Linked DNA regions of Homo sapiens: region 2 is linked to region 1. The links come from fine-mapping of genetic effects on gene expression. A gene starts in region 1. The other region holds a variant in brackets. All regions are shown on one strand. Distances are between the middles of the regions.

Region 1 (5,373 bases):
ACTGTGGAGGTGGGGCCCAGTGGCTGATGTTTAGGAAGGGGCACTGATGGCTCAGAGAGCCAACCCCTCTCCAGAGCAACTAGCGAGGGGCTGCTGGGGTCAACTGGCTCCTAGAATTGTGATTGCAAAAAGACTATGCCCCCTAAGCTTTGGTGGGGTCCCGGTGTATCCCCCCAAGAATTCAGAGTTGAAGCAAGGGCGGTCATCCCTGAAGACATGAATGCCTTCTGCCTTGGAACACCAGCTCCTGGTCCTCTTTTCTGCAGTGGGGCCTCTGCAGCCCATGAAGGGTAAGACTCATCTAAGATCCCTCTCTCCCCAGCTAGGGGAGGAGAAAGGACCGGAATTCACCTCTTGATGGCCACATTCCTGGGTTGCCTGTTTGCCTAGAAATGGCCCCCAGAGGGACGGCTGGCAGTGGAGCCCGGTGGCCCCCAGCTTTGCATGAGGAGCTCAGTTGAGGGACTGCTAGACCCTGGTCTGAGGCAAATCGGGGGTGGGCAAGGTCAGGACGGTGGGCAGGAGGGTGCCCTGCGGGGCCGGGAAACTCCGCAGCTCCTTGGGCACAAACCTGGGTGAGACAGAGTCTGCTAGGAAGCAGAGGGTGCTCCGGCGTCCCACGCAGTAGATGAGGTTGTCCACCACGGCGCACTGGAAGGCATCCGGGTAAGGCGTCCGGTACGTGGCGCACTCGTACCAGAGCCGGGTGCTGGCGCTGCAGCGGTACACGGCGATGCCCAGGCTGCGGTTGAGGTCAAAGCGGTAGAGAAAGCCGTTGACCGCCACCATCTCGGCCGTGCGGTCCTTGCTGCCCCCGGTGGGGCCGGCCCACCAGCGCTGCTCCTGCGCAGAGAAGCGGAACAGCAGGAAGCGCAGCGAGCCGCCGGTGACGAAGATTTCCTTGGCACGCACCGTGGCCGTGTGCGCCAGGGCGAACGTGTCACTGGGGAGCGGCGGGGCAAAGTCCCAGCGGTCCAGGCGGGGGTCGTAACGCTCCACCGAGTTCAGACACTCTCCGCCGATGGCATACAGGTGCCCGTCCAGGGCCACCAGCCGGCAGTGCGGCCGGGCCTGGTTCAGCGGGCACACCTCGCTCCAGATCCCCGTGAGCGGGTTGTAGCAGAAGACGCGGCTGGAGGGCTGGTGCCCGGGCCCCTGGCAGCCGGACACCACGAAGAGATAATTGAAGAGACTGCAGATGGCACAGCCCCGGGACACGGCCTCGGGGGGCATGCGAGCCAGCGGGCGCCAGACATCCTGCTCATCGTCATAGCAACAGAGGCCGCCGGAGTCTTCCTTGGGGCACACGTCAGCCACCACCAGGTACTGGCGGCCCCGGAGCCGGCGCTGCAGGATCAGCTCGCGCTCTGCCCCGCTCAGGCACCCGTAGATGTCCGGGCTGCGCAGCACCTGCAGGTAGTTTTCGCTCATCACCTTGTAGGCCGCCTCTTTCAGGGCCTCCAGGTTCTGCCTCTTGGCCAAGGTCAGCACCTCATAGCAATTGCCCAGATCCAGGCGGACCTGTGGGGCTGAAGCAGGGGTGAGCGGGATATGGAAGAAATTGGTCCCGGCCACCGGCTGCACATGGGGCTCCCGGCTGCTTCTGCCTAAGCCAGGCAGGGCGCCCGGGTCTGGGCAGGGTGGAGCGGGGAGCCGGAAGCCATCTGGCTGCAGCTGCAGCTCTGGGTTCTCCGCTATCTGCAGAAGGCTCTCCTTCCGGCTGAAGCCTCGGGTGGAGGGCCACGGCCCTGTCTGCGGGGAGGCGGCTCTTTCGGCTGCACCCTTTGTGTCACCGGCTTGGCCTCCCGAGGCAGCCCCTGTTCCCAGGGACCCTGGCGGTGGCCTAGGGGATGGAACCTCAGTCAGGGCTGCTGTCCTGGGAGCCAGCCTGCCCTGGAAGATGGCCTGAGAGGTAGATTCCACATAGTAGTCGTACACCTTGCCCTTGAGCCGGGGCTCAACCCCCTCCGCCTTCTGTATGAAATGCTCCTCCATTCGGACGCGGGCTATGGATGAGAAGGTATAGGAGGAGTTGGGGGCGCCCTCCTGCTGATGCAGGGTCAGGTCAACATCGGAGGCAGCCTCGAGAGCCCCAGCCTCTTCTCTGCTGACCCCTATCACACGGGTGAAGACCCAGCTCTGGTTCATGTCACTGCTGCCTTGCAAGGGAGCCACGTAGTGACAGTGGGGAGGTTCTAGTTGCCCCAGTCCTGGATGCTCACGGGGTTTACTGTCCTGCCATGGAGAAGGCTCACCACCGGCACAGCTGCCGTCGGCTGCTGCAATGAGTCCAGCTGGGGAGCTCTTCGGTTCGCTGCCCAAGCGGGGGAAATGGGGAGGGTCAGGGTTACTGCCAACAGCTGTTCTGGTTTCCTGGCTGGGGCAGCAAGGAGGCACCTGCTCAGAGTCCGAGCCCTGCCCGCCCCGCTCCTCACCTGAGCCTTTTCTCTGGGGCTTCCTGTCTGTGGAAGTGGCCCCCGTGACCAGGACATAGGGGCCTCTTGGATTCTCACAGCTGCAGCCCTGTGGTGCTTCAGCCCGCTTGCTGCTCCTCCGACGTCTTGGCCCCCTCAGGAGCACCCCAGGAGAAGCCTCCTGTACAGCAGGCTGCCCTGAGCCCTCTGCTTCCTCCTTGGCTTCTGCCTGGCCATTCCCACCCCACCGCTGGGCTGGGGCAGGCCTCGACTTGTACAGCCTGTAGGCCACAGTCACCAGGAGCAGGGCAGCGGCTGACAGCACCACCTTGCCGGTCAGCTGCATATCCAAATGCCAGTCCTGGGCCTCTGCTCCTCTGGGGAACATGCTTCTCCAGCCAACCTGGGGCTGAGGAATGTCAAGAATCTGATTAATAATTGCCCAGTAGGGACCAGTTCCTGGGTCCTGCTGAGCGGAGGGGAGGGAGTTCTGGGCTGGTTCTGGCTGGCCAGCCGAGGAGAGGAGAGGAGCAAAGGTGACTTTGAGCTGCAGAGGGTGGCCGCTGGGGCCCAGAGCTGGCAGATCCCAGCGGCTGGCCTCCTTCCATGCTTCCCTGGTGGCTGGGGTGGGGGGCCCGCCCAGGGGCTGAGCTTGTGATCAGCCACCTAAGCCAGCTCTGTGGTCAGCAGCTAGGGGATGTTAGGAGTATCCAGTGGGCATACAAAAGAGGAGGAAGCTCTTAACCAAACAGTCACCCGATGCCAGGAAATGCATGGGGTTGGTTATTCTTTATGTGTGTGCTTTATTTTCTCTTTTGCAAGTCCACTGGGCTCAGAGGCTTGGGTGTGGTGAGTCATGGGCAGGTGGAGCCCCAGTAGGCGTGGATGGGGTCATTCTTGTGAGGTCTGCTGGTCCTCACAGTGGGGTCAACTTTATGCTGGCCAAGCAGGGAACGGGAACATGGCAGTGGAGTCTGGAGCCAGGGCATGCAGCCAAGCCACCTGAGCCGGCCCTTGAGTGCCTCTGCCCTCCTTCCCTGCCTGACAAGTTTATTAAGAAAAACCAGCCTTTCTGAGAACAGTGGAGAAAGACATTGCATTAGTGCTCAGATCGGGGTTAGATGTGGACACATCTTCTCTTTTAAAACCAGACAATCTCCTACGGTGAAAGATTGAGGGAAGACTCACGTCTCCCAGACCCCCCCTCACCATTTCCCCTCCCCCATCACCAGTGCTGTGGGTCCTGGACCCAGACTACCTGGCTCTGCTACTTACCAACTATATGACCTTAGGCAAGAGACCTCACCGCTCTGTGCTTTGTCTGAAAAAGGAGGATGACAGCATACGCACCTCATCAGCTTGTGGGGAGAACTAAATGGGCTACTAGGAATAAACACTGGGGCAGAGCCCCCATCATGAAAGCTTAGTAAATATGAACTATTCTCTGCTTCTTCCTCCTTTTCCTCTTTCTGATCATCGGCACCATCATCGCTAGTATCAATTGTCATCAGAGGACCTTCCAAAGCACAGAACTAATTCTACCCTTCTCCTGACCAAGGTCCTCAAAGAGTCCCCAAAGTCCTGTGCAGGGGTCTCAAACTCTTGCTGCATATGGAGGCTGGGTAGGTAAAGTGAACAAGTAAGGACGTCTGTCCGCCCCACCCCAGCCGATGGTATCAGGCCCAGCATTGCCTCATCCTCCCACTGTCGCAAAAAGCTTAGAATCCCAGTAGTGACATAATCACTCTCAATTTTAAAATGTTGGCATCTGATTCAAAAATGAAACTGAAAAACACTGTGGGCCACAGGAAGCACACGCATGGGAGGAATTTGGCTCTGAAGGCTTTGACTCTAGGAGACAATCCTGACTCCCTATGCCGACGTTCACAACTCTCTGTGTACCAGCTTCGGTTTACTCTTCCAGATGCATCTCCTGATCACTGCCTAGCAAACCGGGCTCAGGGTGACTTCTTGGCAGGGAAGGCTGGTGGACATCCCTCTGGCCCATCAGAGTTGGGTAAAAGGCTGTGTCTGGGCCTTCTTCCCTGGTGCCTTCATCCGTCCAAGATCACCTTTTCTTCCTTTGGGTCTCGTGTTCTCTGATGCTCCTCTTTTAGGCTTGGCCACAGCTGCTGCATCGTAAAGTGCATTGTGTGCAAGATCTGGTCTGCTGCATTCTAAGTCCTTGAGGACAGAGGCTGTAGCTGGCTCAGCTGTGGACCCTAAGCCTATGTGGGGCCCTGCACCATTTGGGACAATAGCCAGCAGGGATTGTCTTTACACTGAGTGGATTGGGGTGAACACTCGGGATGAAGCTCATCTCATCTCGTCTCATGCTCACAGCCCCTTTGGGGAGAGACACGATTGTTATCCCCATTTGACAGCAGCGGTAACTGGACCTCCAAGATTATGTCAACTGGCTTGTAAATGGGGACTCAAAACCTTGTTTGCAGAGTCCAGAGTTTTACAGACCTGACTTCATCCAGCAGGTGTGACCTCTTAGAAAGTCAGGTGTCCTCAGCCTGTCCCACTGGTAGCTGTCAAGAGGGGTCCCCTGAATTCTCTTTCTTTCCATCCTGGTCAAAAGAGTGCCTATCAATGCAATGTGCACAAGGATCACAAGGGGTGCTTGTTAGAGATGCAGCTTGCCTGCCTGCCTGCCTGCCTGCCTGCCTGCCTGCCTGCCTGCCTGCCTGCCTTCCTTCCTTCCTTCCTTCCTTCCTTCCTTCCTCCCTCCCTCCCTTCTTTCCTCCCTCCCTTCTTTCCTCCCTCCCTCCCTCCCTTCCCTTCCCTCCCTCCCTCCCTTCCTTCCTTCCCTCCTTCTTAACTCTCTCTCTCTCTCTCCCTTTCTCCCTTTCTTTCTTTTTCTCTTTCTTTTTTGAGACAGAGTGTCACCCAGGCTGGAGTGCAATGGCACAATCTCAGCTCACTGCAACCTCTGTCTCCAGGGTTCAAACGA
Region 2 (5,373 bases), 27 kb after region 1:
GCTACTTGGGAGGCCAAGGTGGGAGGATCACTTCAGTCTGGGAGGTCGAGGCTGCAGTGACCTCTAATCACGCCACTGCCCTCCAGCCTTAGCAACAGAGTGGGACCCTGCCTCAAAAAACAAAAATTGGCAAAAAATTATAGTAGATATTTCCCCATAGAAGATATTCAAATGGCCAATAAACACATGAAAAGACGCTCAACATCATTAGTCATTACAGAAGGTCAAATTAAGACCACAACGAAATACTCTTTACACCCATTAGAATGGCTATAATTAAAAAAAAAAAAAAGACTATCCCAAGTGTTGGTGAGGACGTGGAGGAATCGGAACCCTCACACATTGCTGGTGGGAATGGACCATGGTGCAGCCACTTTGGAACTAGTCTGTCAGCTTCTTAAAAGTTAAGCATAACTTTATATGATATAGCAATTGTAATTTTCCGGTTCCGTCCATAAGAAATGAAAACTTGGCTGGGCGCGGTGGTTCACGCCTGTATTCCTAGCACTTTGGGAGGCTGAAGTGGGCAGATCACCTGAGATCAGGAGTTCGAGACCAGCCTGACCAACATGGAGAAACCCCGTCTCTACTAAAAAAATACAAACTTAGCTGGGTGTGGGTGGGTGCCTGTAATCCCAGCTACTTGGGAGGCTGAGGCAGCAGAACTGCTTTAACCCGGGAGGTGGAGGTTGCGGTGAGCTGAGATCACGCCACTGCACTCCAGCCTGGGCAAAAAGAGCAAAACTCCATCTCAAAAAAAAAAAAAAAAAAAAAAAAGAAATGAAAACTTAAGCTTACTCAAAGACTTGTATGTGACCATTCACAGCAGCATCAATATTATAAGAGCCCCAAAGTGGCAGCAACCCAAGTGTTCAATATTTAAGTGGAAAAAAAAAAACACCCAGATACAAAAGAGTCTATGCTGTCTATTTCCATTTTCACATGAAAAGTCAAAAAAAAGACAAATCTATTGAGCAGAAAGTAGATTAGTGTTTGCCTGGGGCTGGGAGTGGGAACAGACAGTGACTGCTAATAGGCACAAGGTTTCTTTTTAGGTTGATGGAAATATTCTAAAATTAGATTTCAGTGATTGTTAAACCTCTGCAAAATTTACTAAAAAGTCATTGAATTGTACACTTAGACAAATTTTATGGTATGCTAATTATGCCTCAATAAAGTTGTTAAAAAATAGATATATTTTTAGACCATAGCAGGTCTTCAAAGGGAAATAATTAAGAAATTTTTGGAGACAGCTTCTAACCTTCTGACAGGGAGGTGACAGAGAAAGTGTGGAAAAGGCCAATCTGACTGGGCATGGTGGCTCACACCTGTAATGTGGCTCCCAGCACTTTGGGAGGCCGAGGTGGGAGGATTGCTTGAACCCAGGAGTTTGAGACCAGCCTGGGCAACATAATGAGACCCCATCTTTACCCAAAACAAAATTCAGCTGGGCTTGGTGTTGTGCACCTGTAGTCCCAGCTACTCAGGAGACTGAGGGGAAAGGATCACTTGAGACCAGGAGGTCGAGGCTGCAGTGAGCTATGACGGCACACTGCAGTCCAGCCTGGGTGGCAGAGCCAGACTCTGTTTCAAAATAAAGAAATAAATATAAAACAAAAGCCCAATCTTTGGACCACAGCCAGGGATTGAGTTGCCACTCGGTCACTTGTTTGGTAAGTCAATTAAGTTTTCTTGGCCTCAGTTTCTTCATTTGTAAAATGGGGACAATAACATCTACCTCCTAGAGTACTTTTGGGAATTAAAAAGGGGTAATAAAAAGGTTTAGCAGGATGCCTAGTACAGAGATTATACACTCATACATGCTAGTTCCTTCTAAGGGGGTCACAACTAAGCCTTAACCTCATTGGTGAGACTTTATTTCTGGGGGCAAGTGGGATTAATTAATTCAGCAAACATCTCTTGAGCAAGTGCCTTGCATCAGATCCTGCCTTGGGTGGAATATGAAGATGAACAAGACTCAGTCTGTGCCCTCAAGAAGCCCAGCATCCAGAGTGGTGACAGTCATTTGCAAGGCAGTTACACTACTGAGAAGGATACAGAATAGGATTAGGGGAGAGGGCTCCAGCCAATCTGGAAGGAGAGTGGTGAGGTTAGGAGGGCTTCTAGAAGAGGAGTTGCTTGTGTGCTTGGAGGGTACACAGGAGGGAGGTGGACATCCCAGGCTATGGCAACAGCTTCCACCAGCCCAGCTCAGC[C/T]CACTTTACCTCTCAGAGCATATGATGAAGGAGCGGGAAGAGAATCTCAGACCCTTGGGTTGGAAGGAACCTGTCAAGGCCATCTTGCCTAATCACTCTGCTTACCAGGGCCTGGACTTCAAAGGCTTTCAGTAAAGGAAGAAGCTGCTCTTTAACTCAAGGTCCCTTTGAAGAGGAATCTGTCGACAGCAATACTTCGTGACTTGCACAGAGAGTTGCAGACAAGTTTCAGGAGATCCGGAGTCGTGGGGGAATCACTCAGGATGCATGGACCAGCCTTGGTTGGGGGGAAGTAGAGACGGATGAGGGATTCTGAGTTTGTGAGTCAGTTCTTGCCCATTGATCTTGGGCAAGAGGCTTTGGCAGCAGTTCCCAGTGTCCCAACCTAGGTGGTGGTCAGGAACCCACCCCAGAATGCCCACTGGATGTAGAGAAGAAAAAGAATTAGAATCTACTGGGCCCCTGCTATAGGCTTCTACATTGTGTCAAAGATTTTTGCTAGGGACTTTATATGAGTTCTCCATGAGGTGAGAATTTTCATCCTCATTTGACCTGAGAGCATCCTGGCGCTCAGAATTGAAGCAACTTGCACAAGGTCACAGAGCTAGAAAGGAGTAGGACAGGATTCGAGTTCAGCTCTGCTCTCCCCAAAGTGCTTGCTGCTTCTCATTCTATGCAACACCCTGCTTGCCCCAATCACACGCAACACCTAACAAGCCAGATCTCTGACATACTGGTGCAACTGGTACCTTTGGGAATTCCATATTCACATTATTTTAAAAAGAGATCTTTCTCATAATAATTTATCATATTTTAAATGAGATTAAAATACAAAAAATTGAAATTGCAACAAAAATAAACATAAAATTAAATCCAATATGTAAAGAAAAGGATAATGCTCATTGGTAGACCCATACTGTATTATGGAGTATATCTTTCCAGACTTCTTCCTAGGCCAGGAACTCTGTTTTTGCATAGTTGATACCATTTTGTATACACCATATTGTGTCCTATTTTTTCCTTCTCAAATTGTATCATAAACATTTCCTTTGCTACTTCAAGTTTCTTGTAAACATTTGGCAACACAATCTTCATTAATCTGAATGAGTTTATTTAACCAAGCTCCTGTACTTGAGGATTTAACTCATTTCCTTTTCCCCCCACAGTACAGCATTTGAAACACCTTCTGGCAGGTGAAGGTGGATGTGGCAGCTCCCTCTGGGTTTGTAGTGGCAAATGCCAACACATCTGGCCCTCACACCAAATGTCCATCTGTCAGGGGAAGGGAGGGTAAAAAAGAGAGCCAAGCACCTGCTTGAAGATTCTTGCGCACTTTCCTGTTCAGTTCCCTCGACAATCTGGGAGATGGACACTGTTCTCCTCATTTCACAGGAGGGGGAAGCCAAGCCTCAGGAGGTCAGTGAGCCAGGTCACAGGATTGGTGCTGAGCAGAGCCACGGTTCTGATTGAGATCAGCCTGAATCTCGGGTCATGCTCCCCTCTCTGCCCCACACTGCTCCCTCATGGGTGTGGCAGGAAGACCACAGGTCTATCCAATGTAATGACTGTTGCTGTCTCCCCTCAAATGGTCACATACAAATTCTGCTGCTTTGTAAGGGGCATTTGACTGGAAAATTCCACAGCCAAGAGCAGTGGCTCCTAAGCCTTTTGTCTGATGAGATGCAAATTCCTGAGGGAAAAATATTTCCGTGTGTCTTTGTACCTGTTCTTACACCCTTTCCATTTGTACCCTCGCAGACTGTTGCTATTCTAGGGCTAACCTTGAACTCACTCTAATGTCTGTGCTTTGTTTTTTGTTTGTTTGTTTGTTTGTTTTTTAACAAAGCAAATAATTTGCATTTTTTGGTATCCTATCTTTGGGGAACCCTCCTGGCGTGTCATAGCACCCAGACTGAGAACCACTGGCCAAGAATAGAGGTGAGAACCAGGAATGAATTTATAAAAGATCTTGGGCTGCCAAAAGTAGCCCTTGAAAATCCCCACACTAAAGCTCCTGCATTTGGATCATAGGAGATGCCCCCAAATCTGTTAAATAAGCACAATATCTGCTGCTGAATATTGCTGTGAGTTAAGCATGAGAATAGGCAATATTTGCAGATTAAAAGGCACTGTAATAAAGAAGAATTATGCTCAGCAGATCTGATTCTTCTCTCCTTCCTGTGCATACAGATGACTACATTTCCCAGACCCCTTTGCAGTCATGTGGGGGTCATGTGACTAGTTCTAGCCAATGGTATGCAAGCAGCTATAATATATGCCACTTCCAGACCAAGACATTTAAAAGCATGTGTGAGTTATTCACACTCTTCCTCACCTGTCTATGAAGACTCTAGAAGTTGGGATAACAGCATCACTCAGGGTCCTTCTACCCATCTGGGACCCTGAGTGACTCTGGGACAGAGCCACCTGCCAACCTGCAGCAGACATATAACATCAGAGAGAAATAAAACTTTATTGCCTTGAGTCCCTGAGATTTCTGGGTTGATCTGTCCCTAGGCTATTCCTGATCGATACACATTCCAAGCACAGGGCCTGGTCTATGGCAGAGGCTTATGCTTTTTCCTTGTCCCCTCCCTCAGTGGCTCAGAGAAGTGTAAGTCACATGCCAATGTAGAAAGGGCAGGTAATGTGGAGAAAACTTCACTGACCTGGAAAGTTCCTTTTGCTCTAAGATGGAGCCTTCTGAAAAGGCCAAGGGCTGTACATTCTCAAGTTCTCTTTGTTTTGTCTTTTTAAAAAAAATTACTTTAAATTCCGGAATACATGTGCAGAATGTGCAGGTTTGTTACATAGGTGTACATGTGCCATGGTGGTTTGCTGCACCTATCAACCCATCATCTAGGTTTTAAGCCCCAAATGCATTAGGTATTTGTCCTAATGCTATCCCTCCCCTTGCCCCCACCCCCCGACAGGTCCCAGTGTGTGATGTTCCCCTCCCTGTGTCAATGTGTTCTCATTGTTCCACTCCCACGTATGAGCGAGAACATGTGGTGTTCGGTTTTCTGTTCCTGTGTTTGTTTGCTGAGAATGATGGCTTCCAGCTTCATCCATGTCCCTGCAAAGGACATGAACTCATTCTTTTTTATGGCTGCATAGTATTCCATGGTGTATATGTGCCACATTTTCTTTATCCAGT

Evidence for each region. PIP is the estimated chance that this variant, and not a neighbour inherited with it, causes the effect.
Region 2: its variant is the best candidate, but not a certain one, in a credible set for the expression of KLHDC7A in whole blood (TOPMed, PIP 0.52).

Annotation. Positions count from the first base shown.
Region 1 is chr1:18,478,411-18,483,783 of GRCh38, reverse strand. It overlaps KLHDC7A (kelch domain containing 7A), which reads right to left and starts at 2,854. Exons shown (of 1, transcript NM_152375.3): 1 at 1-2,854. The coding sequence starts at 2,802. The coding sequence ends at 469. RefSeq lists enhancers at 2,032-2,903, 2,904-3,776.
Region 2 is chr1:18,451,836-18,457,208 of GRCh38, reverse strand. No RefSeq gene overlaps it. Among named protein-coding and RNA genes, the nearest start is that of KLHDC7A, 26 kb to the left of the region's middle. The variant C/T (reference allele first, on the strand shown) is at 2,217.